5 linked regions of the Homo sapiens genome follow. The protein of the gene in region 4 purifies or fractionates together with the protein of the main gene of each other region. This does not show direct contact. Each region holds a gene or a part of one and is shown on either strand. Other genes may lie near its edges. The genes, in order: GART, GHRL, SWAP70, FARSB and RANBP3.

Region 1 (5,347 bases), on a different chromosome or scaffold from region 4:
GTGGCGCGATCTCGGCTCACTGCAAGTTCCGCCTCCTAGGTTCACGCCATTCTCCTGCCTCAGCCTCCCGAGTAGCTGGGACTACAGGCGCCCGCCACCACGCCCGGCTAATGTTTTGTATTTATTAGTAGAGACGGGGTTTCACTGAGTTAGCCAGGATGGTCTTGATCTCCTGACCTCGTGATCCACCCGCTTCGGCCTCCCAAAGTGCTGGGATTACAGGCGTGAGCCACCACGCCCGGCTGGGTCTCTCTTTCTTATTGTAATGTGAGCTGAAGGATGTTATCTTTCCGGCATTTGGAGAACCCGCTTGAAAATGAATCCTACACAATAGAGGAAAGAAAGGCAGATACAGGTAAAGTCAACAAGGTCTGACATTTTTTTTTTCTATTTTTTATTTTTGTGAATCTTCTCTGTATCGTTCCAATTTTAGTATGTGTCCTGCCAAAGCAAGCATGTGACGTCTTTGTTAGTGAATCTGAGTGGATTTTCTGCCCCTCTGCCAAGTTCTAGCACTTCTCGCAGAGTCCTGACTGATACAGTACTTGTCAGGGTGCTTGCTCGCTATTCCTTGAATCGAGCTGAGTGACAGCAGAGCCATGAGGTCTTGTGTGTAGGGAGATTACTTTGGGAAGCGATCCTGTGGGGTGTGGCTGTGCATGCATGAATGCTTAGTTCTGAGGCAGAAATGAAGAGATACGTGGTATCGCTGGGGTGGGTGCTGTCATGTTACATCTGTGTAAAGATAGTTGCCATAGCGATGGCTGCACTAAAAGGTGGGCAGAAAGCTTGTGAGGCAAGGCTGAGGTATAGCTAAAATTATACAGCTAAAATTATATATCTAAAAATGAGTAAGGAGCAAGTACCTTCAGCTCGTGCAACCACACTGCCAATCACCCAGGCTTCTTCCTTGTGCTGCTGGATATCCCTCAGAATCTGCTCTGTCTGCTCCTTTGATACCACAAGGACAGCGCCAACCCCACAGTTAAATGTTCTGGCCATCTCTTCCTCAGAGAGGTGTCCTTCCTGCTGCAACCATGAGAAGACCCTGGGGATCCTCCAGGTCTGGGCATCTGAAAAAAATAGACACGAATTGTTTGATTTTCCTACCTTCTCACACAAAGTACAAAAGTATGCACATATTCAAAGATGTGGAAATTATAATCAGGCTCTGCTATTTTATGTAGGGTAAAACTATAAATTGGCCTCTGAGAACTTTTTATTTGGGGATCCATTTGTACCTTAGACATTAAGAACATTTTTTTGTTGACACACTTGGCCAGTACTCACAAATGAGTGAGGTTTTGTGCTACATTAACTAACTAGACCCTTAGACATTCCCTAATGGATCAGATGAGCTAGTAGCTGAATTCCAGCAAAGGCCAGTATACCATCCTTTTGTGAATGTTTGGCTGAGTCTTTGTGATGACCAAAATGCACCCAAAGTACAATGCAAAACTAGATGGCTTATCTACATATTTAGAGAAAATGCATACACTCCTCAAGAAAAGTTATGTTAATGGAAGGCGGATCAACACCCTCTCCCTCTCATTCTTTTTAAAATTTAGACTTCCTAGGTCTGCTATAAGAATACATTCTCTCGGCCGGGCGTGAGAATCCCAACACTTTGGATTACATGCCTGTAATCCCAACACTTTGAGAGGCTGAGGTGGGCGGATCACGAGGTCAGGAGATCGAGACCACCCTGGCCAAGATGGTGAAACCCATTCTCTACTAAAAATACAATAATTAGCTGGGCGTGGTGGCGCACACCTGTAGTCCCAGCTACTCGGGAGGCTGAGGCAGGAGAATCACTTAAACCTGGGAGGTGGAGGTTGCAGTGGGCCGAGATGGTACCACTGCACTCTAGCCTGGTGGACAGAGTGAGACTCCGACTCAAATTGAAAAAAAAAAAAAAAAAAAAAAGAATACATTCTCTCTTATCACAAATAATACAACAAAAATCTCTAATAAAAATTTTTAGGTAAAGGTCTATATACACACACACAACATTTCTGAATTTAAAAAGAATCTGGATAGTTCTTTGGAATCTACGATTATGGGATCTGATTTTTTAAAAAAACTATACTGAATTAAATTATTTATGATGCTCTTAAGAAAGGGAAGCCAATGTGAACTCAGCTTTTTATTAAATAATAAGGTTTACTATCAGTTCTGCCTATTTATTTGATTTATTTATTGGATAATTTTTTTTTTCTTTGAGACAGGATCTGGCTCTGTTGCCCAGGCTGGAGTGCAGTGGCATGAACACGGCTCACTGTAGCCTTGATGTCCCAGGCTCAAGTGATCTTCTCACTTCATCCTCCTGAGTAGCTGGGACTACAGGCATGCGACACCATGCCTGGCTATTTAAAAAATTTTTTTTTTGGAGAGACAGGGTCTTACCATGTTGCCCAGTCTAGTTTTGACCTCCTGGGCTTCTTCTGCCTCAGCCTCCCAAAGCGCTGGGATTATAGGCATGAGCCATCATGCTCAGCTGATAATCAGTTTTTTAATACTTTGGAGTTGATACAATTTTTTTTTTTTTGAGACAGAGTATCTCTCTGTCGTTTAGGCTGGAGTGCAATGGCGTGATCTCGACTCACTGCAACCTCCGCCTCCTGGGTTCAAGCTATTCTCATGCCTCAGCCTCCCGAGTAGCTGGGATTATAGGCATGTGCTACCACACTTGGTTATTTGTGTGTGTGTGTGTGTGTCTCTGTGTGTGTGTGTGTGTGTGTGTGTGTGTGTGTATTTTTAGTAGAGACAGGGTTTCATCATGCTGGCCAGGCTGGTCTTGAACTCCTGACCTCAGGGGATCCATCCACCTCAGCCTCCCGAAGTGCTGGAATTACAGGGGTGAGCCACCATGCCCAGCCTGAAGTTGATACAATTTTAAAAATGAGGCGGGTGCAGTGGCTCAGGCCTGTAATCTCAGCACTTTAGGAGGCCGAGGCCCGCAGATCACGAAGTCAGGAGTTCGACACCAGCCTGGCCAACATGATGAAACCCCATCTCTACTGAAAATACAAAAATTAGCTGGGCGTGGAGACGCACATCTGTAATCCCAGCTACTCGGGAGGCTGAGGCAGGAGAATCACTTGAACCCGGGAGGTGGAGGTTGCAGTGAGCTGAGATCGCACTACTGTACTCCAGCCTGGGCGACAGGGTGAGACTCTGTCTAAAAAAATAAAAATAAATAAAAATAAAAATGAATCACATGTCTATGACTCTTAGATTCAATTCCATTTATAGTAGCTGGGAAATGTCCATTCTTAATAGTTGACCTCAGATTTAGTAACTACATTGTTCACTATGCTCTCAATAGTTAAAAGTAAATAGCAACTTAAAACTAAATAGTGGTACATCTGTAAAATGGAATACTTGTTATCAAAAATGATGCTACTAAGACAAGGAGATAGTGATGACATATTTAATGGCAGGGCAAGTAGCAGATTACCAAATTATGATCTTGTTTTAGTGAAGTTTTACAAAATATTTATAGGAAAAAACACTGGCAGACTAAGAGTCTAGCTTCTATAAATGAACAAGTACTTCATGAATAATGTAAGTTGTAATTTTAATGTTGAAAAGTCCTGGCCAGGTGTGGTAGCTCATGCCAGTAATCCCAGCGCTTTGGGAGGCTGAGATGGGCAGATTGCTCTGAGCCAAGGAGTTTAAGATCAGCCTGGGCAATGTGGTGAAACCCCGTCTCTACTAAAAATACAAAAAATAGCTAAGTGTGGTGGCGTGTTACCTGTGGTCCCAGCTACTTAGGAGGCTGAGGTCGGAGAATCACTTGAACCCAGGACGTTGGGGCAATAGTGAGCTGTGATCGCACCACGGAACTCCAGTTGGGGCGACAGAGTGATACTCTGTCTCAATAAAAAACAAACAAAAAAACCCCCAGAAGTCCTTACTTAAATCTGTTGTCAAAGTATGATTCCTGGAAGAAACTTTAGAGGCTGATGCAAGGAATTGTGCAATGGCTTTTATTGGAATACAGACATTTGTGTAACTCAAACTATAACTGCTTTCAGGAATATGGCTATATCACTTTCAGTTTCTTAATGAGGTGACTACTATGTTGTTTTTAACTAGTGGTGTGCTAGAGCCAGCTTGTAGAGACTGTTAAACAGCCATTTTTAAAGCAGCTATGATGGGAGTATTTATACCACAAAAACTGGCAAATGCACAAATCAGTCCTGCCTCCTTTCCCCATTCATCAGCAGGCCACTGTTTTTTAACTATTTGAAAAGGATGATGAATGAACTACTTATTAAGGTTCTTATATATGCTCACCAGAAAGCATTTCTACCCAAGGAATGTCTTGAACCACTAGTTTCACCCTCCTATGAATCCTTCAACTCCTTAATATGCTCAGTCCATGGACCTGGAAGAGACTCCCACTCAGCCTAGCCTGGCCTGTCTGTTTTGCTTCCCTGACTAGGCTGAAATCCCATCTGACCACTCTCCCAGCTTCCCTTGCCGATTTCCTCACTTCCACACAACCTACCTCTGACTCTTCAGTTCTCTCCGAGCTTCACATACGCTCTGACTCTTGGGTTAGCTCACCATATCTACTCACCTCTATCACTCTGACTGCTTCTCCCCAATGAATGACCCCAATACCTGCTTAGTTCAGCTGGATCAACCTAACTAATCTATTTTTTTTCTGTTCTTGCTTCAAAGCTATATACATGCTTTTGCTCTGGGAGAAAAACTACATGAGCAGCTTCACCTTCACCTGTGCCTTCAGTCCTGCTCACTGTCTCACTCCTGTTTGACCTTGACTGCTTTATCCACTCCTCTCTTCAAGCTCCCACCCCAGGCCTGATCATCTCACTAATACTTCACAGAGAAGTTATTTTATGTAAACTCCCTCAGTTTCTACTCCTTCAAATCAATGTGTATTAGTTGACTATAGCTGGAAAAGTTTCTCTGACTTTATTTTACAAAAACAAGGAAGGGAGGGGCTGGGCACAGTGGCTCATGCCTGTAATCCCAGCACTTTGGGAGGCCAAGGCGGGTGGATCATGAGGTCAAGAGATTGAGACCATCCTGGCCAACACGGTGAAACCCCGTGTCTACTAAAAATACAAAAATTAGCCGGGCATGGTGGCGGGCACCTGTAGTCCCAGCTACTTGGGAGGCTGAGGCAGGAGAATCAGTTGAATCCAGGAGGCGGAGGTTGCAGTGAGCTGCGATTGCGCCACTGCACTCCAGTCTGGCGACTCCAGCCTGGCGACAGAGCAAGACTCCAACTCAAAAAAAAAAAAAAAAAAAAAAACGAAAAACAAAAAACAAAAAAGAACACAGGGAGGGAGGACTCTGTCCCTCACTTTTG
Region 2 (2,847 bases), on a different chromosome or scaffold from region 4:
GCCTACAGTCAAGTCAGTCCACATGTTTAGGCTAAGGTGGGCATGACCGAGTGGCCTTCCCCCGGGAAGACCAGTGTCGTAACTGGAATTAAGTTGTGGAACATAAGAGTCAAGGCTCGTGTCTGCTGTGAACTGGAGTTGAGGGAATGTTTGGGGATCCCACCTGGTATCAGTAAGGGAACCATGGCGACGGCCAGCCTTGCCCATGTGAGGCATTTGCTTTGTCAGGCCTTCTCAGTAGTGGAGAAGGGAGGAAGGAGAATGCAGCTCTTTCAGTGCTGTCTAGCAGTGCCCAAGAGCCGTGATTGGGCACCTCACTTAACGTCTAACTTCAGATTCACTCTTGGGCATTCCTGTCTTCCTCTCCAATCTTGAATGGATGTTGGCTTCGATAATGTCATCCTGAAGTTTCTTTGTCCACACAGCCCTGGCTGGTTGTTAATAAGCTGTTAATGCAGCCTTGCACTCAGGAAGCCCTGATGTTTAAAGGAACTGTGTCTTTGTTCTTCCTCTCTTCCCTCTTTCTCTTAGTCCCACTTTATCTCTTCTTTCTCTTCCTCTCCCTCCTCCTTTTCCCCTCTCCCTCCTACTCTCCCCCTTTCTCTCCTCCTTCTCTAAGAAACCCAGTCTTAATTCCACACAATGCATGCACATGCAGTAGCTTCTCTGCTTGAGTGAGCTGGTGTGATTAGGTTTTCTAAACATGCACATTGGCCTTGCTACTTGTCCTTTTATTCCCTTCCCACAGACCATAAACCAAGAATTATTTTTATTTGTATTATTTTGATTTTTTTAAAGTAAAATATTAACTTTTCCTCTTTGAAATAAATTCCCATTTGGAACATCAGCATACAGTTTGAACATTTATTCGCCTCCTGAGCTTGTACAACAGTCGTGGGAGTTGCTGCAGAAGCAAGCGAAAAGCCAGATGAGCGCTTCTAAACTTAGAGAGAGGTGAGTAAGGCTTGTGGGCGATCACTTGTCGGCTGGGGCCTCTGGAAAGCAAGAGGTTGAGTAAGAATGCTGGGTGCACCGTCCTGCTAGTGCTTTTCTTCCACGGTGGTGAGATTGGAGGTGGGATGTAATGGTGGGGGTTGTGGGGAAGCACTGGCCTTGGAGTCAGAGGGCGGCACTCAAGTGTGGACTGTTGTGCCCTGGGCAAGTCACCTCAAAGCTCTGAGTCTTGGTTTCCTCGTTTGCACAGCGGGGTGAATGCTACCCCTGCTGTTCCCCAGGGGTGACGGGTCACCGCCTTGGTGAGGACAGTGCTTTGCAGATGTGCAGGTGTTTCTGCCACCTCAATCAGTTGGGCGGTTTCTTTTTTTTCTTTTACAAGGTGAGGGGATTCAAAGCAAACCCTTTGCTTAACTCAGGAAGCTCTAATATTTGAAGGAACTGCTTAACAGGCTGCAGAACCTGTTCTGAGTGCTATTTTGGCACCAATTCCTTTTTGTTTGTGGAGTAAAGTTACGCAGTGAAGACGGTGTAACACCAAATAATTGTAGACTCTCACAATAGGTAAAATAGCTCCATTTTACAGTTAAGGAAGCTGAGGTTCAACTGAGGCCCCAAAGCTAGTTAATGTACTAGTTCTTAGAACATTCTTTGAACACAAAGACTATGATGAACTCCCTTCTGAGCCACTCACAAATACTAGCCAACCACTATCCTGCAGATCTTTGGGAAAGGGAAATTAGAAGTTCTTTTGGAGAGGCAGAGGTTGGGGAAAACTCATCACCCACAGAGTGAACTCCCATGTGGGGCTGCAAGGAAACCGAGCAAACCCAGTCCAGGCAGGACTCACCTTTGGCCTCTTCCCAGAGGATGTCCTGAAGAAACTTCCCCAGGGCCTGGCTGTGCTGCTGGTACTGAACCCCTGACAGCTTGATTCCAACATCAAAGGGGGCGTTGAACTAGGAGGCAGGGCAGGGAGGACCCAGGAGATGTCAGAGGTCATGCCCATCCCCATCTCAAAGGGGGCTCTGGGCTCTCTGCCTCTCTTCAGGAGTGGAGAGGGAGAATGGCCTTTGGGCCCCAGCAGGGACTGCTGAGTGACACCTCAGCCAGGTTCTCTTCCTTTCTCAGGACCACAGCTCACCTTCCCACTCACCATCTTTCAGACACTTACCTTGCACTCTCATGCCTCTCAGCCTTAGCCTCTAATGGGATTGCTGATAAAAGCTGTGGTGCCCCCTAGTGTGAGATTTTTTTTCTCCCTTGCAGTTTTGAAGACAAAAGGTTGAGTCACCAATGGCAGCATTTCAGGCCCTGGCAGGGGGTCTGCCCAGCATTCTCAGCACTGGCCTGCTGGCCTTCTATTCCTTCCCTGCTCCCAGCTCTTTCTCCTTTCTCTCTTGTCTGTTTCTTCTCCTTTTTCTCCTTCCCTAGGTATTTTTTCTCTCATATGCATAGACCTTTCTTTGATGCCTGGAAAATCAAAAGGAAGTTGATGTTTTCCTAGAAAGAGGCTCTGAGCCAAGTCCTTTCTGTGCTTCCATTTCTTCCCCTCTACAGGGAGAGCGCCTCATCTCTTCCATTTTCCAGGTATTCCTGAGATGATTTATTGGAGCTCAAAGCTTTGGGTAAGTGGGAAGGAGCTCTGCTGCAGCCACATGGCAGACTTTCCTTGAGAGCAGAGATTGTCTCTGCCAGTGGCTACCTCGGTGCCTGGCCATATTGGGCACTGACTTATCTGAGTCAGGGAAGGATCTTAGTGCTGGGTCATTTGGTCCTCACAGTAGAAGCCCAAGGAGTTGGAGGCCAAGGACTAGAATGCAGGACTTTTAAACCCACTTGGCCCTGAAAACTGCTTTAGTCCTATTGCCCTTCCTCTGTGTGAGGCCAGGC
Region 3 (5,347 bases), on a different chromosome or scaffold from region 4:
TTTCTTAATTTTTTCTTTTTTGTTTTTTTCTTTTTTGAGACAGGCTGGAGTACAGTGGTGCAATCTCAGCTCACTGCAACCTCTACCTCCTGGATTCAAGTGTCTCAGCCTCCCGAGTAGCTGGGATTATAGGCATGCACCACCACGCCCAGCTAATTTTTGTATTTTTAGTAGAGACAGGGTTTCACCATGCTGGCCAGGCTGGTCTCAAACTCCGAGCCTCAAGGGATCCGCCCGCCTCAGCCTCCCAAAGTGCTGGGATTAGAGCGTGAGCCACCATGTCCGGCCAATAACTTGAGTATTCTACATTTTAAATGAACAGTTTTCTTCTGAGTTCTCATTCAGAAGTGGCTAGATCACCTTCAGGATTACACATAAAAAAATAAACTTCATAGCAGAAAGGGTGACTATAGTCAATCATAATTTAATTGTACATTTAAAACTAACTAAAACAGTATAGTGGACTGTTTGTAAGACTAAGGATAAATGCTTGAGGTGATGGATACCCCATTTACCCTGATGTGATTATTACACATTGTATGCCTGTATCAAAATATCTCATGTACCTCACAAATATAAACACCTACTGTGTACCCACAAAAATTAAAAGTTAATAAAAAACTTCAATCGTAATTTTTAAAATTACAAGATCTGGCCAGGTGCAGTGGCTCAAGCCTGTAATCCCAGCACTTTGGGAGGCCGAGGCGGGTGGATCACGAGGTCAGGAGATCAAGACCATCCCGGCTAACACGGTTAAACCCCGTCTCTACTAAAAATACAAAAAATTAGCTGGGCGTGGTGGCAGGCGCCTGTAGTCCCAGCTGCTCAGGAGGCTGAGGCAGGAGAATGGCTTGAACCTGGGAGGCAGAGCTTGCAGTGAGCCGAGATCACGCCACTACACTCCAGTCTGGGTGACAGAGCGAGACTCCGTCTCAAAAAAAAAAAAAAAATTACAAGATCTACGTGTTTCAAGCTAAAGTTCTTGTCTTTCATTTAAACAATTTACTATAAAAAGTTTCTCTTTTTTTTTAAGACACTGTCTTTTTAAGAGACTGACAGAGAAAGAACTATCCATTAAAAGAATAATGAGATTCCAAATATTCCACGAATGATCGGCTGTTGCTTTAAGAAAGGAGTGAGCAAACAAATTTACAAGAAAAAAAGAAACAACCCCATCAAAAAGTGGGCGAAGGACATGAACAGACACTTCTCAAAAGAAGACATTTATGCAGCCAAAAAACACATGAAAAAATGCTCACCATCACTGGCCATCAGAGAAATGCAAATCAAAACCACAATGAGATACCATCTCACACCAGTTAGAATGGCAATCATTAAAAAGTCAGGAAACAACAGGTGCTAGAGAGGATGTGGAGAAATAGGAACACTTTTACACTGTTGGTGGGACTGTAAACTAGTTCAACCTTTGTGGAAGTCAGTGTGGCGATTCCTCAGGGATCTAGAATTAGAAATACCATTTGACCCAGCCATCCCATTACTGGGTATATACCCAAAGGATTATAAATCATGCTGCTATAAAGACACATGCACAAGTATGTTTATTGCGGCATTATTCACAATAGCAAAGACTTGGAATCAACCCAAATGTCCAACAATGATAGACTGGATGAAGAAAATGTGGCACATATACACCATGGAATACTATGCAGCCATAAAAAAGGATGAGTTCATGTCCTTTGTAGGGACATGGATGAAATTGGAAATCATCATTCTCAGTAAACTATCGCAAGAACAAAAAACCAAACACCGCATATTCTCACTCATAGGTGGGAACTGAACAATGAGAACACTTGGACACAGGAAGGGGAACATCACACACCGGGGCCTGTTGTGGGGTGGGGGGAGGGGGGAGGGATAGCATTAGGAGATATACCTAATGCTAAATGACGAGTTAATGGGTGTAGCACACCAGCATGGCACATGTATACATATGTAACAAACCTGCACATTGTGCACATGTACCCTAAAACTTAAAGTATAATAATAATAAAATTAAAAAAAAAAAAAAAGGAGTGAGAAGAGTTAACTGAGCAGCCTTTTACACAGGCCCTTGGCGTAAGATTATGTGCATTTCATTAGTGCCAGTTTTCCAACCCAACTCCAGGATGACTTCCCTTGATTTTTCTATCCAGAAAGGCCTATCCTGAGGAGCAAAGAACAAACCCTCTCTGCCAATCTGACAGAAAGTCCCTCTGAATCAGCCACAGCCTTCAGTGACTTCAGGAAAGAGGAACACATTTCACTTAAAAATGACCACTAGGCCGGGCGTGGTGGCTCATGCCTGTAATCCCAGCACTTTGGGAGACCGAGACAGGCGGATCACAAGGTCAGGAGATGGAGTCCATCCTGGCCAACATGGCAAAACCCCATCTCTACTAAAAATACAAAAATTAGCCAGGTGTGGTGGTGCGCGCCTGTACTCCCAGCTACTCGGGAGGCTGAGGCAGGAGAGTCGCTTGAACCCAGGAGGCGGAGATTGCAGTGAGCCGAGATCACGCCACTGCACTCCAGCCTGATAACAGAGCAAGACTCCATCTCAGAAAAAAAAAGGGAGCAGGGGGGCAAATTTGTCCATTTCAGGTTCCAAAAACTAAGAGAAAAAAAAATTTAGAATAATAAAATAATTATATTCATAAAATGCCCTTTGCACATTAAGAAAAAGTTAAATTTGTGTGCAGTACTTTCAGCATATTGGATCAGAGCTGTATGTAGAAGTTACATCTGGATTCAAAAGGTTGAAACCATTTTGCTATTGCTTAAATCAGAGTGTGCAAAATAATTAGCTGGAGTTTTTTGCCGTTGTTGTTTTGTGTTTTTTTTGAGACAGGGTCTCATTCTGTCCCCCAGGCTGTAGTACAGTGGTGCAAATGCAGCTCACTGCAGCCTCAACCTCCTGGACTCAAGTGATCCTCCTGCCTCAGCCTCCCAAGTAGACTTTTTTTTTTTTTTTTTTTTAAAGATGAGGTTTCACCATGTTGCTCAGGCTGGTCATAAACTCCTGGGTTCAAGTGATCCTCCAGCCTCGGCCTCCCAAAGTGTGGTGGGTGAGCCACACTTTGTGGTGTATTTTTCAGAAGCTTTGTGAGGTGATTCTGATACATAACATTGGTTAAAAAACCACTGGCTTCAATTATCCAAAATTATCCCTTATTCAAAATATCACTCATTCTATAAACACTAAATAACTAAGACTAGTATTTCTAGAATTATCTGGTTCCCTCTGTGATCTAGTCTCTGCTGTGTCATAATCAACTTCCCACAAAACTGCAGTAATACATATAGCATATTTCACCTGCGAATTCTTTGCACAAAAACAATCTATTAACTCTCAACACGGCTCAAATTATGAGGTGGCTCAAAAAATGTTGAGTGTCATGTAGAACGTCACTCTGGACGTCACATGGCACTCAAACATTCCCGTAGAGTGACTCTTCTGCTAAAATCACTGCCGAGTGGCACTGGAGGGGAGTTCCAAGAACCTGATTAACCTCACAGTGCAGTGAATGTGCACCTGTGGGGCCTATATATGCCTGGCAATATGCTACATGCTTAATTTTCTATTTAGAAAATAATTTTTCCTTAAAAAAATTTAAATTTAAAATCTAAATGTCCAAAACAATTTATTTATTTTTGAAGTCACTTTTGGCAAAATATACAACTAAAGATGGCTTCTTCTTTCTCTTCCTATCTAAAGATTAAAGAAACATCTTTTGCTGCTCCACATGTAAAATGGCAGCCATGGAAAATCTACCCTAGCTCATCTCATAACTGCTCCCCAAAACAGGGGGTCAGAGATCAAAGACTGGACCCTGTGCTGCTACTGTAGTGAATACTTTTTAGTGTTGTCTCCCATCCCAGACACCTTAAATAATGTAAATGGGGCAGCAAAGTAGAAACTGGCAGAGGATAGGCTCAATTTTTCCCTTTGGGAGTCTTCATTTTATTTTGTCCTCCCTGCTGCCATGAAGGCCCAAAATTGAGAATTTTCATCTGCGAACATGACTATCATAAAGTTCTAAGGGGAAAAAAAATCTAGGTTTCAAATACTTTTAAAATTAGGATTTCAAGTAGTAATTACTGAAGGAATGTTACCAATCCTGAATGACCAAATAGAAACTGCATATTTCTTCCTTATTCCTCAAAACCTGACGGCAACGTTGGCCTGAACAGGCCTCTGCCTGCATACCAATGGCCCTCTCTGGTCTGGAGCGTGTTGAAGATGCCAAGCTCTTATCAGAGGTAATTCTGGGTTTGTGGATTTTCTCGAATAAGACTAAGGGTACCTCATCAAACATACCTACCAGACTGCTCTAAAATAGGCCCTTATTTAGCCCCAGAAGCAAGGGTTTCCCAGCGCCTCAGAATGAAAAGAAACACTCCAGCCGGTCGAGTCTCCACAGTCTTTCTAATCTGGACAGCACCTCGAGCTCAGTCACAGCCAGAGCAGAGACACTTCTCCCTCTCCACCAGAGTGTTAGTCATTCCAAGAAACTGTATTAGCCCAGGCAAAGTACATAAAGGCAAAGTCTGCAAACAAATCTGGCACCTGGCCTGAAGCTTCCGCACTGTCTCTTCATCTTGCCGGGCCTGTCTCTCATCTTCAAGAGCCTCCTGCAGCTTTAGGTACATGTCTTCCAGCTCCCGTACTCGCTGTAAATACTGTTCCAGTTCAGAGGACTTTTGAGCAACCTGTTCTTCCATCTGCTGTCTGATCTGTTGGTATAAAAGGGTCTTGTTTAAATGCAGGTTGACTTCTTTCTCAGGGAAAGCCTCACCTCCACCTGAGGGGTTGCCCACAGCTGCAGCCTCAGCCCATCAGGGTGGCAGGACCCTGTCCTTCAATCCTTGAACTTAAAGATGGAGGAGATGAGGGTACCACACCCAATCGCAATAGTGAAAGAGTCTGGGAAGAGCAAATTATAACCCAAATTATGTTCTGCCCTGCTGTATTTTCCATCCCTTCCACTCCACATTTTAAGACTCAAGTCAAGAAAAAAATGTTTCCTTGTGTAATTTCTCTCTAAATTCCTTTCTGTCTTAAAGTCACAATCTTTTTACCAATAGGGTCTTCTCTAAAAGGAACGAACCTTTTCCCAGTCAGAGCAAACGAACCTTTTCCCAGTCTTCTTTAGTGTTACACTAAAGAAGAAGGAAAGGTCATCCAGCATGGGATTCCTCCCACACTTCCCTGGCTGTCTCCACTCCCTGGGGCACCTCCAGCCCTAGAGGAACTCAAGCATTTCAGTTAATCTGTATACGTTAATGGTTTTTCCCTTCTGGATTACAGAGTTTTGAATCCCTGCCTTAAAAATTACAAGACAAGAAC
Region 4 (5,347 bases):
GCTGCTGGTCCATGGACTCACTTTAAGTAGAAAACATTTTAAGTTGCTTTCCTAATTCTGTCTGATCATAAAAATCACAAGGTGACTGGTAAAAATACAGATTCTCACTGGGCAGGTTTGGGAAACGAACTCTCAGGAGTTATCCTTGATCCTAAAATAAAAGCATCTGATTGTCCCATAGGAAACCAACTGAGTCAACTCTAAAATTTTAACCATCCTTAACCTAATGCCTAATTATCACCATTTCACCAATACCCATCACTCACCTAAACCCTCACAATTTCAGAATCTAGCCCATCAGTTAGAACTCTTATTCTTTTGCAGCTGACCAGATAATGAAGAAGTAATCAAAAATAAAAACAATTTTTAATAGCTGTTCATTTTTTTCACTGTATATATTTGTTATCCTCTATCTTTTTTTTTTTTTTTGAAACAGAGTCTCCCTCTGCTGCCCAGGCTGGAGTGCAGTGGTGCAAATCTCGACTCACTGCAACCTCCACCTCCCAGGTTCAAACGATTCTGTGCCTCAGCCTCCTGAGTAGCTGGGATTACAGGTGCACGCCACTATGCCTGGCTAATTTTCATATTTTTAGTAGAGACGGGGTTTCACCATGTTGGCCAGGCTGGTCTTGAACTCCTGACCTCAAGTGATCCACCAGCCTCGGCCTCCCGAAGTGCTGGGATTATGGGCATGAGCCACCATGTCCAGCCCCTCTATCTTCATTAAATGAAAAGCTGGAAGGGGCCTTATAAATCTTCTTCATTATAGATTAGGAAATTGAAACTAGAGAGGCCAACTAACTTGCTCAAGATCACAGAGCCGTCATAAGATCTTTGGTTTTTCCAGTTAGGAGGCTTCACTCCTGAGCTTCCTTAGAACTCATAATGTAAGGGTATTTATTGCTAGCTCTCCATTTCCTCTCAACTTTTAACACATCCAGTGAACTACTCATTCCAATTAGATCACGGAGGGGAATCACACACACCTGCTAAATAATTTTTTAAGACGCCATAAAAGCATTAAACACCAGTTTTAAAATATGTTCTCAAAGATGAATGGCTATGACTAAAATTTTCATGGAAATTTTCAAATGGCTACAATCTGCATGAATCTAATTCCTCAAATCAACCCTCTATTGAGAGCTAAAGCTACGTTCCTCTACAAGCTTTTTCCTAGAAATTTAAACATGGCTGCTGATAATGACAAGGAAAGAAAAGAAAACCCAACTTAGCAAAGTCTTTAAGGAACATATTTCCTTACCTTTCTTTGAAGACCTGAAGTCCTCGAACCAATCCTTCCAGACACAGGAGATCATATCTATTGGCAGGGACGTCAATTTTGTAAAGAACAACATCAGAGGCTCCTGCTGCCTTTACATTACCTTGTTCTTTACTTATTATTTCCTTCTCAGATGTCTAAAACAAGCCAAAAAGTAATGATAAAAATTAAATAATTTAAACTCTCTTTAAAAAGTAAAAGTTGTCAGCCCTATAAGGCAGTAACTACATTATACATATTTTCTATAACAAGAACATGGGATTATTATATCCACGACAAAAACAACATGAAAATATTAAGTGTTATAATCATAGCAGACAGAAAAATACTTCAGCTTTAACTGAGTTCAGATATCTGGCAACCTCAATCACCCCAGAAAAGCACAAATCCATCTAAACAAGGGTCAGCAAGCAATAGCCCCCTGGCCAAATCATACCTGATACTTGTTTTTGTAAATAAAGATTTATTGGAACACAGACAGACCCATTCATTTACATATTATCTACTGCTACTTACACACTGCAATAGCTGAGTTGTAACAGAGACTATAGAGCCAAAAAGCCTAAATATTTACTATCTGGCCCTTTACAGAAAAAGTTTTCCCATCTCAAGCTAAAAGAAAATTAAAACATCACCAAGAACATAAAGTAACAACAACAAAAGTGTCAAAGGGGTAAAAGAAAGATGATTCACTAAATAAAAGAAACACAACTTCTTATAGGATGACTCTAAAACCTAAATCCTGTGGGCACCCAAGTCCACATGAGAATGAGAGGGGTAGTATAAAAACTAAAAACAGTCAGAGACCATCAGACACTGGTAAAAATTAGAAGGGATAATAGGTACAATGGGAAGCAAACTAGTGATAGCAAAGGGATAGTGCAGCAGAATGAAGGCAGCCAAGAGGGAGATGACAGAAGAAACACCACTAGAATCACGTTTAATGCAGTGGCAAAGAGTTTAGAATATCTCAAGCACCACACTACAGCAGAGTAACAGATTTTCTTAAACATAACCACTGCAGAGAAGTTACACTCTATTCCTTATGTTTACTACAGCAGGGAACTGTAAATATATTTAAGAAATTTTCACTTGAAATGATTACAAGTTGTATTCCAACTGTTAATGTTACGCTTTAATTATGTGGAAACTCCACTTAACCAGAATTCCTACTATTTCCACCACCAACAACCTGCTAAAATAACTGATGGATTTCTATCAAAATATGTAATGATTTTTGTTTTACATGATGCCCTCCCACTGCCACAATATAAGTAGTTCAAATTTTTGTCCAAATTAAGAATTATATCCACATTTGCACAATATGCAGAGAAATTCACTTCTGGCCACGAGTATTATGTGCCAAAGTCCCACCTGAGGAACCACAGGAGTCTATGCAATGCTGGGGCTGTACAAGGTGGTGCTGGGCTCCAAAAAACCTCTACCTTGGGCATCTCAAACTTAGGAGGCAAATTTTTATAATTAGGGAAAATGAAAAATGAAAAACAAGAGAATGAAGAGGAGGAGGAAGGAGTAAAAAGGGGGAAAAGAAAAGAAGGGGAATGGGGAGAGGCAAAAAGAGAAGAGGAAGAATTCGAGTTTAAACAATGTTCAATCAAAGGGGTTAATAAAATTACTGTTTCAATAGTGAAGAAAGCTGAGTCACCTCCCAGGAGATGGCAGATCTCAGGAGGGACCTATATACAGAGAAGATAATATAATAACCGGAGAAATGAAGGCATCTGCATTCATTTTTCAGCAGCACCCCCTTATCCACAGGGGATATGTTTCAAGCTCCCCAGTGGATGCCTGAAACATTGGATAGGACTAAATGTTACATATACCATGTTTCTTCCTATACATACATACCTATGAAAAAGTTTAATTTATAAATTAGGCACAGTAAGAGATTAACAACTAATAATAAAATAGAACAATTAAAATAATATACTATAATAAGAGTAATGTGAATGTAGTCTCTTTCTGTCTCAGAATTTCTTATTGTACTATACTCACCTATTTTCAAACCACAGTTTGCTGCAGGTAACCAAAACTGTGGAGGCAAAAAACTGTGGATAAGGAGGAACTACTGTAAAAAAAGATCTAATTCCTTTGCAAAAAAAAAAAAAGACACAGAAGCTTACATCTTCTTTCAGTTTCAGCATCTCAGCTCATACAATGACCATATGTAAAGACTGAATTTGTCAGTGCTACCTGACAATAATCTTACAGAAATTTAAAATCACATAAATTTCAGAGTCAAAAAAGAAAACCATAAAGATCATATAATCCAAACCCCTTATTTCACAAATGAAAAGGAGGCCCAGAGAGACTCGTCTGGACTATAGAGTTCAGACAGGCAAAGTAATTGTCCATAGTTACACAGCTAGTAAATGTTAGAACTAGAACTCAAATAATCTAACATCCAGTCCAACACTCTTAGATATCACATAATTTCAAACATAATTCTGAGGTGTAGTAAAATTACGAATAGCAACTTATAAACTACAGAAATCTCAGCCAATTTCTCAAGTATACAAATAGATTAGTACAAAGATGATCTTTCTGTAACATTAGTAAGGCAGCAGGAAAAATAAGGTAAGATAATGTACAATTTTTTAGCCTGAACATTTTTTAACTTTACACCTAAGGTAGTGTTATAAAAGCACTGAATAGGTGAAGATAGAAGGCTTAGGAAAAAAATAATACTAACTATCAGAAAATTATCTTTTAAATTAAAGTATGTCTTTTTTTTTTTTTGAGAAAAAAATTGGGCTTTTATTGGCAATTACAAAAGTAATAGATTTTCTTACATAATACGTTCCTTCAGTAATATATTTTTCAAGTATTTTACCATAGAATTTCTAAAGTACTTTGTCATTGACCCCATAATTTATTATAAAGTAGGTCCCATAATCACATTTTTTGGAAGTTGCTGAAATTGAGATAAAAAATATTGTTTTTTTATGAGAAAAACTGGACAAAATACAGAATGGCCAAAACTAGATTAACTGGCTCAGTTATGTCTACTAGGTGAAAGAAAATACAGAATCTGTTACTGTAGAAATTTTAAGAGGTTTTGAGTCAGTTCCAGTATAAAAATAAGGCCAAAGTTCTCCTGTAAAATCATCATTAAAAGTACAGAGAAGAGATCTATCATTCAAATTATAAAAGGAAACCTCATTCATTTCACAGTCTAAAAAAATGCCAATCTTACTAGGTGTTACTTTTGGCAGCAGAATAATTTCCTTATGGCCCAATACAATATAATTATTCCGACTAGATTACCAAATTCTCCATAATCCATCCTGTACTAAAATTGGTTGACTCTTCCTCCTTGTGGGAGGAGAGTCACTACAGACACCAAGAATCCATTCAGGCATGTCTTTAACTTCTACTTCCCGGTACTGCCTGCCACAATTTTATCCCTTAGAACCCAGAACAGCTGGGAGCAGATAAAATCTTCTTGGGTTATGAGGTAAGTTTTGTGTTGTATTTCCATATCGCACAGTTTTTCTATCTTCTGAGACTATAAGTTTACGATGTGCTGCTTCAGGATCTAGAATTACATCTACTTGAAATCGCTTGATAATTTTGTTTTGGCCACAATATTGTGGAGACAGATGGTAACCATATTCTTTTAATTTGAATAAAAAAGGTTTAGGGAATTTTAAATTCTTATGTCTGTGATAGATATCCTTAACATCAGCCAGTAATTCCAGTTCTGACTTCACATATATGCTCTCTATCTTCTTTAGTAGATATTTTAATGAGGAGGTATAATCTGAAAATTTTGTTAGGCTTTCATTTAGTTGTGCTAAAATATCCATCTCGTCATCTTGTAATTGCCCAAAAACAGTCTCTTGCTCATTTTGCAGAAATAACCTAAGTTGCTCAAATTCAGACTTGACTTCTTCTGCCGTATGTTTTACCTTTTTCTTCAGTTCCAGTGATTTTCTGGTTTGTATAGTTATGACTTTTTCAATTAGTTCCACTCTCTCCTTCCACGGTGCATTGTATTGCTCCAGTTTTTTCCTGATAGGAGGCAGCCTTCTTTATGGGCCAAAC
Region 5 (5,347 bases), on a different chromosome or scaffold from region 4:
AGATACTTACACTTCCAACAAGCATTGCAGGGGCAACAGGCATTTGTTAAAAGGCCTTTACTGGACTCCGAGGTAGGTACTTTACATATCTAGTCTCATTCATCATAGACGCATCCCCATGACATCCTCCTCATATCCCACTCCACCCCATGAGGGCCAAGCCACATTCTGCCTTCTTTATTTCTACCTTTATCAGCCCTGCAGCCAAACCCTTCTAAGCTTCCACTCCTGCGCCACCCAGACCGTAAGCCCCGGGGGGCAGAACTTGCACTTCTGAACAGAAACCCCATAAAGTTATACAAAGTCAGCAACTCTGCCTACAACTGTATGGATGGCTGGGTTCAGTGGCTCATGCCTGTAATCCCAGCACGTTGGGAGGCCGAGGCATGTGGATCACTTGAGGAAAGGAGTTTGAGACCAGCCTGGGCAACATGGTGAAATCGTGTCTCTACCCAAAATACAAAAATTAGCTGGGCCTGGTGGGATATGTAATCCCAGCTACTCGGGAGGCTGAGACCCAAGCATCACTTGAACCCAGGAGGTGGAGGTTGCAGTGAGCTGAGATAGCACCACTGCACTCCAGCCTGGGCGACAGAGTGAGACTCTGTCTCCAAAAAAAAAGAAAAGAAAGAAAAAAGAAAAAACTGCGTGGAGAGATGGAGGATCCAGCTTTAACGGCACTTTTCTGTTCCGCCACTAGGTGGTGTGACACCAACACAGCTGAGGCAACATGCAAGTGGCTGAAGACTCGGGAAAGTTCCAGTAGAGACAACAGGAATCCCCTCCTCTCTACACGGAAGCTTACAGGAAGGAAATCCAAGAACTACAGAATTTATGCTGAGGCAGCAGAGCAAAACTGATGATACTGGAGAGCGCGGGCTCTGGTCTTTGTGTGTGTTCAAACCTGCCCTGGCCACTTACTTGCGGTTGGGATCCCAGATAAGACAATGTACCTCTGGCACAATGTCTTCATTTGCATATCAGGGCTGTTATTTCACCCCAGGCAGCTTCGGCAAGGATGAAATGAAATGCTGCACATGCCGTGTTTGGGGAAGTGGTTGGCACACAGGATGATTCCACACTGGCACTGGTAGCATTATTATGCTCGGAAGATTGCAAACATATTGATGCCACCTTAAAGCATAGGCCTTGGATTCAAGGACAGCTGCCAGTGCCCGGCAACGACAAATGCGTCAGAGTCTGACCCCTTTTAGGGGGTGGAATGGTTGGATCCAAGAGCTGCCTGGACGCCTGGGACACTCAAGGCAAACGCTCAGGTGCTCGGAATGCCTGAGCCCTTCTGAGGTCACAGGAAACAGGTGGGATCTGAAGGCAGGCCGAGCCGAGCAGCCAAGCCTTGCTCTCACCAGCAGGATCTACCAAGCACAGACTTGTGCTAGGCACCGAGCTTGCCACTGGAGACAGGAAAGAAATGGCAGACAAGGCCGCAGCTCTCTACTGGGAAAGAGAAAACAAACAAGTACCTGCTGTGTGCAGAGATAACTGGGTAGTTCTGGAGCTGGGTGCTGCAGAGAAAATACCACAGGATGGTGGGAGAGAGTGAGTGAATGGGTAAGGCCTCGCTGAAGCTCACACATGAAGGGTGAGCAGGGATGAGCCAGGTGAAGGCAGGGGATCCCAGGCAGAGGGGACCCCAAGTCAAAGGTTCTAAGGAAAGGAAGAGCCTGGAGGCCCATGTTTGGAGGGGAGGAGAACGGGAAGGGCTGGGTGGAGCCCACAGGACGTTCAGCCTTGCAGGCCATGCTGACAAATCTGGATTTATCCAGTGTAAAGGTTGGGGCCCAGGCTCTGGACTCTTAGGACCCAGTGGCCATCACCATCAATGCTGCAAAACATCCTCTCTCCTCTGAGCAGAGGGTAACTGCCTGTTTTCTCACCCTCTCCCCCAGAGAAAGGCAAGTTCTCAAGGACCGTTTCCACTCACGCTCTGCTCTCACAGATGCAACGCAGGAATTAATTCTGGGTAAATAAGTTCCCAAAATTCTCTGTGGCAAACCTGGGGGAGTTTAATTTAGCAAAGGCATTTTAAACTTACTGCAAAAGGCAAGGCCTGCCTTCTAAACATGTGTATGGAGTAACTACTACTGTCTCTAGAATTTCCTCCCTTTCTTTGAACACCATAAACAGCGACAGCGAAATGCAGTGCCCTACGCGGGTCAGTTTTCAGGGGTGAACGAGTGCCCATTACCTAGAGTTTACTGACTCACCGGGAAGGACAAGCATGAACTCCTAGACTCCATGGCTGGAGACAGGCGCACTGGCCCTAGCCAGCCCTACCTGCTTCCATGGCCTCGGGCTTCAGCCCCTGTGAAATGGTGCAGCCAGGACTCAGGCATCCCTGAAGGTTCTTCCCAGCCCTTACATTCTGTCAGGTCCTCACCCTGGACCAGAGGCAGTGTTAAAGGTCAAGGAAAAGACTGTTCTTCCTGAAGAGGGATATGATGTCCATTGAGGCCTACTCAGCTGCCAAAAGGCCAGAATAGAAAAATAAGGTTGGGAGGAAGGGCCTTAAACTCTAGCTGGCAATTAATTTATTCCTGGGTAGGTTCCTTTGATCCTATGACCAGTGGTTCTCACCCAGGAGTAACTTCATCTCCCTGGAGACACTGGTCAAAATCTGGAGACATTGTGACTGTCATGTTTGTGGGGGTGTGGAGGAAACTGTTACAGACATCTAGTGGATGGAGACCAGGGATGCTGACCAACATCCTAGGAGGCTCAGAACAGTGCCCTACCAGCAAGTGACCCAAGTCCAAATGTCAACTGAGCTGAGGGCAAGAAACCTTGCATTAATCTTGGGCAAAAAAATTGAGCTGGATCTCTAACTCACATTATACACCAAAATAAATCCCCAATAGATTAGATGGCACAAACCAGGGTGACCCCCCACCCTGGCTTCTGGGATTCACCGCCTCTCTCCCTCCCCACTCAGACTGTGGCTTTAAATGTGTACAGGCTCCTACGACCTCAGTAGGTTAGATAACTATGGAACACAAAGTCTCTTGGGTGTCAATGAAATCCCATAACCCAATGGTTCTCAAGTGGGGGCAATTCTGACATTAAGGGGACACTGGACAGTGTCTGGAGACCTTTTATCTTCTCATGACTGGGAGTGGATGGGTGGGATGACTGGGTGCTATGGCATCACATGAGTAGAGGCTAGAGGGGCTACCCAACATCCTCCAAAGCACAAGATGGCCACCACCAGCCCCAATGTCAAGAATACTGAGGTGGAAAAACCCTGGTATAACTCACAGGGTGCTTTCTCTCTACTCAGGCATCCAATTAGGAGAATCACAGCTAGAAGTAACTGACATGTATCTCCACATTCCAGTAGGTCAATTACCAGAAGTATATTCTCTCTCACACCACAATCCTCAGACTTGCGTATCATCGTTCCCATTTTACAGATGCAAGAGCTAAGGTCAGACAACTTGCCCATGTTTCTAGGGCAGAAGGCAAGACACAAACCAAGGACAGCCAATCCAGGTGCTTCCAACCATGCCACAAGTTGCCAATGGGAACCTGCTGGTCAGCTCTGGTTTAGAATTCTCCCGATGTTGGCAAGGCAGCGGAGAAACCCACACTGTACACTGAGGCTCTGCTAGCACATGCCAGTGGTTCTCAAATTTCCTGGTCTCGGGACCCTTTTCCACGCTTGTCAATGACTGAACATCCCCAAGAGCTTTTGGAAATGTGGGATGTAGCTACTACTGACACCATATTAGAAATGAAACCTAAGACAATTTCAAAATACTTAAGATTATAATAAACTCCAGAAAGGTTTAGTTAAATAACATATTTTTATGAAAAATAAGTATTTAAAAAAATCTGAGAAGAGTGGCATTATTTTACATTTTGACAAATGTCTTTAACGTCTGACTTAATAGAAGATAGCTGAATTCTCTCTCTTTTTTTTTTATTAAAGAGAGGGGCTTTGTTGCCCAGGCTGGCTTTGAACTCCTGGGCTCAAGAGATCCTCCCACCTCAGCCTCCCAAGTAGCTGGGACTGCAGGTGTTTGCCACTGTGCCCGGCCTGAATTCTCTTATCTGCTTCTATAGTTCATCTGTTGGCATATCACACATCCAATAACCTCTGGAAAAAAACTCCACTGTCCATTTTCAAGTGAATAAGAGTGAAAAAAGAGCAGATAGTGTCTTTGTGTTGTTATGAAATAGTTTTGAACTTGCAGTCCCCTTGAAAAGGTCTTGGGGACTGCAGGGCCCCGGACCATCTTTGAGAACTGCTGCCATATGCTATCTGAGTTCTAGCATTCCAAGGACACTAAATCCTAAATTACAGACCATGAGGTGCTTTATGCTAAGGTTCTAGCTAAAGAGCACTCTAAGTGTAGAGAATGCAGAGTCTAGGAGTCTGTATAATAGGATTGAAACCCAAATACCAACCAAGGTCACAGGCACTGGAAGAGAAGGAAGTGGGCTAGGCCCCAAGTAACATGGCGGAGACCACAATATCCAATCTAATCTATCCACAGGCGCAGCTGTTCCTTAGCACTGAAAAATCACTGCTGTGCAAGAATGCAGGCCAAGGGTGGTTGCTGTTTTCTGAGAGAAATCAGAAATACAATTTTTTTCCCCTCTGAAATCTCAGAATTTTAAGTGTTGGCTCCTAATTACAAACAAAAACCTAAATGGGCCAAATTAAATATGTCTGCTTGCCCTTCAGGCAAGTTTGCAACTTCTGCCTGTGGTTTTCAACTCTGGCTTCATGTTGTTAAACATCTGTGGAGCTCTTTAAAACCACAGACACCCTAGAACTCCTGGAACCATCTCCAATGGTGCAGCCCAGGCAGCAGTTTTGATTTTCCCTGACAACCTCCTTAAACAAGTGTGAAGCCCATCCAGGGCTGAGATCCATAGCTAGTGCTGTGTGGCAGCTCTAAGTGCCAAGACTACTGAGGAGGAAGCAAACTGTGGACATGTGGAAGGTGGTGGTGAGGAGCTTTACCCTGATGTCCCAGGCCACGTTATTCTCTACTGCGTAGGGCAGAGTCAAACAGAACACCGCTCCACCAGGACCCCCTAAAACAAAGAAAACATCACCACCAGACCCTGAATAGATAATGATGCAAGCCCAACTGCCTCACGATTGCTTCAAAGTACCATGGAGAGCTACCAAATGCCCAGCCAAGCCAATACCAGCCATCTCGGCAGTTTTGTGGTCCTCTGGTAAGTTTTGAGGAACGGCGCTCTCTTCTCAGATTCCCCAAATGCATCTCAACTTTCCCCAAATGGCCTTCGTCTCCCACTACACCCAGGCCTATTCACTGTCTGAACTCACGTAGGAGGGCAGAATTCAACCCCC

The links.
Region 1: the proteins of FARSB (region 4) and GART fractionate together in Homo sapiens (co-fractionation; one large-scale study listed by BioGRID). This does not show direct contact.
Region 2: the proteins of FARSB (region 4) and GHRL purify together in Homo sapiens (affinity purification with mass spectrometry; one large-scale study listed by BioGRID and IntAct). This does not show direct contact.
Region 3: the proteins of FARSB (region 4) and SWAP70 fractionate together in Homo sapiens (co-fractionation; one large-scale study listed by BioGRID). This does not show direct contact.
Region 5: the proteins of FARSB (region 4) and RANBP3 fractionate together in Homo sapiens (co-fractionation; one large-scale study listed by BioGRID). This does not show direct contact.

Annotation. Positions count from the first base shown.
Region 1 is NC_000021.9:33,510,386-33,515,732, forward strand, and holds part of GART (trifunctional purine biosynthetic protein adenosine-3), read right to left. Parts: intron 1,074-5,347; coding exon 867-1,073; intron 1-866. UniProt on the Homo sapiens protein: Trifunctional enzyme that catalyzes three distinct reactions as part of the 'de novo' inosine monophosphate biosynthetic pathway.
Region 2 is NC_000003.12:10,284,900-10,287,746, forward strand, and holds the end of GHRL (appetite-regulating hormone isoform 1 preproprotein), read right to left. Parts: intron 2,583-2,847; exon of another isoform or gene 2,389-2,582; intron 1,914-2,388; coding exon 1,805-1,913; intron 996-1,804; coding exon 976-995; 3' UTR 767-975; downstream 1-766.
Region 3 is NC_000011.10:9,739,568-9,744,914, reverse strand, and holds part of SWAP70 (switch-associated protein 70), read right to left. Parts: intron 4,735-5,347; coding exon 4,568-4,734; intron 1-4,567.
Region 4 is NC_000002.12:222,641,590-222,646,936, forward strand, and holds part of FARSB (phenylalanine--tRNA ligase beta subunit), read right to left. Parts: exon of another isoform or gene 5,212-5,347; intron 4,758-5,211; exon of another isoform or gene 4,033-4,757; intron 3,333-4,032; exon of another isoform or gene 3,296-3,332; intron 1,417-3,295; coding exon 1,262-1,416; intron 1-1,261.
Region 5 is NC_000019.10:5,967,406-5,972,752, forward strand, and holds part of RANBP3 (ran-binding protein 3), read right to left. Parts: intron 1-5,347. UniProt on the Homo sapiens protein: Acts as a cofactor for XPO1/CRM1-mediated nuclear export, perhaps as export complex scaffolding protein. Bound to XPO1/CRM1, stabilizes the XPO1/CRM1-cargo interaction. In the absence of Ran-bound GTP prevents binding of XPO1/CRM1 to the nuclear pore complex.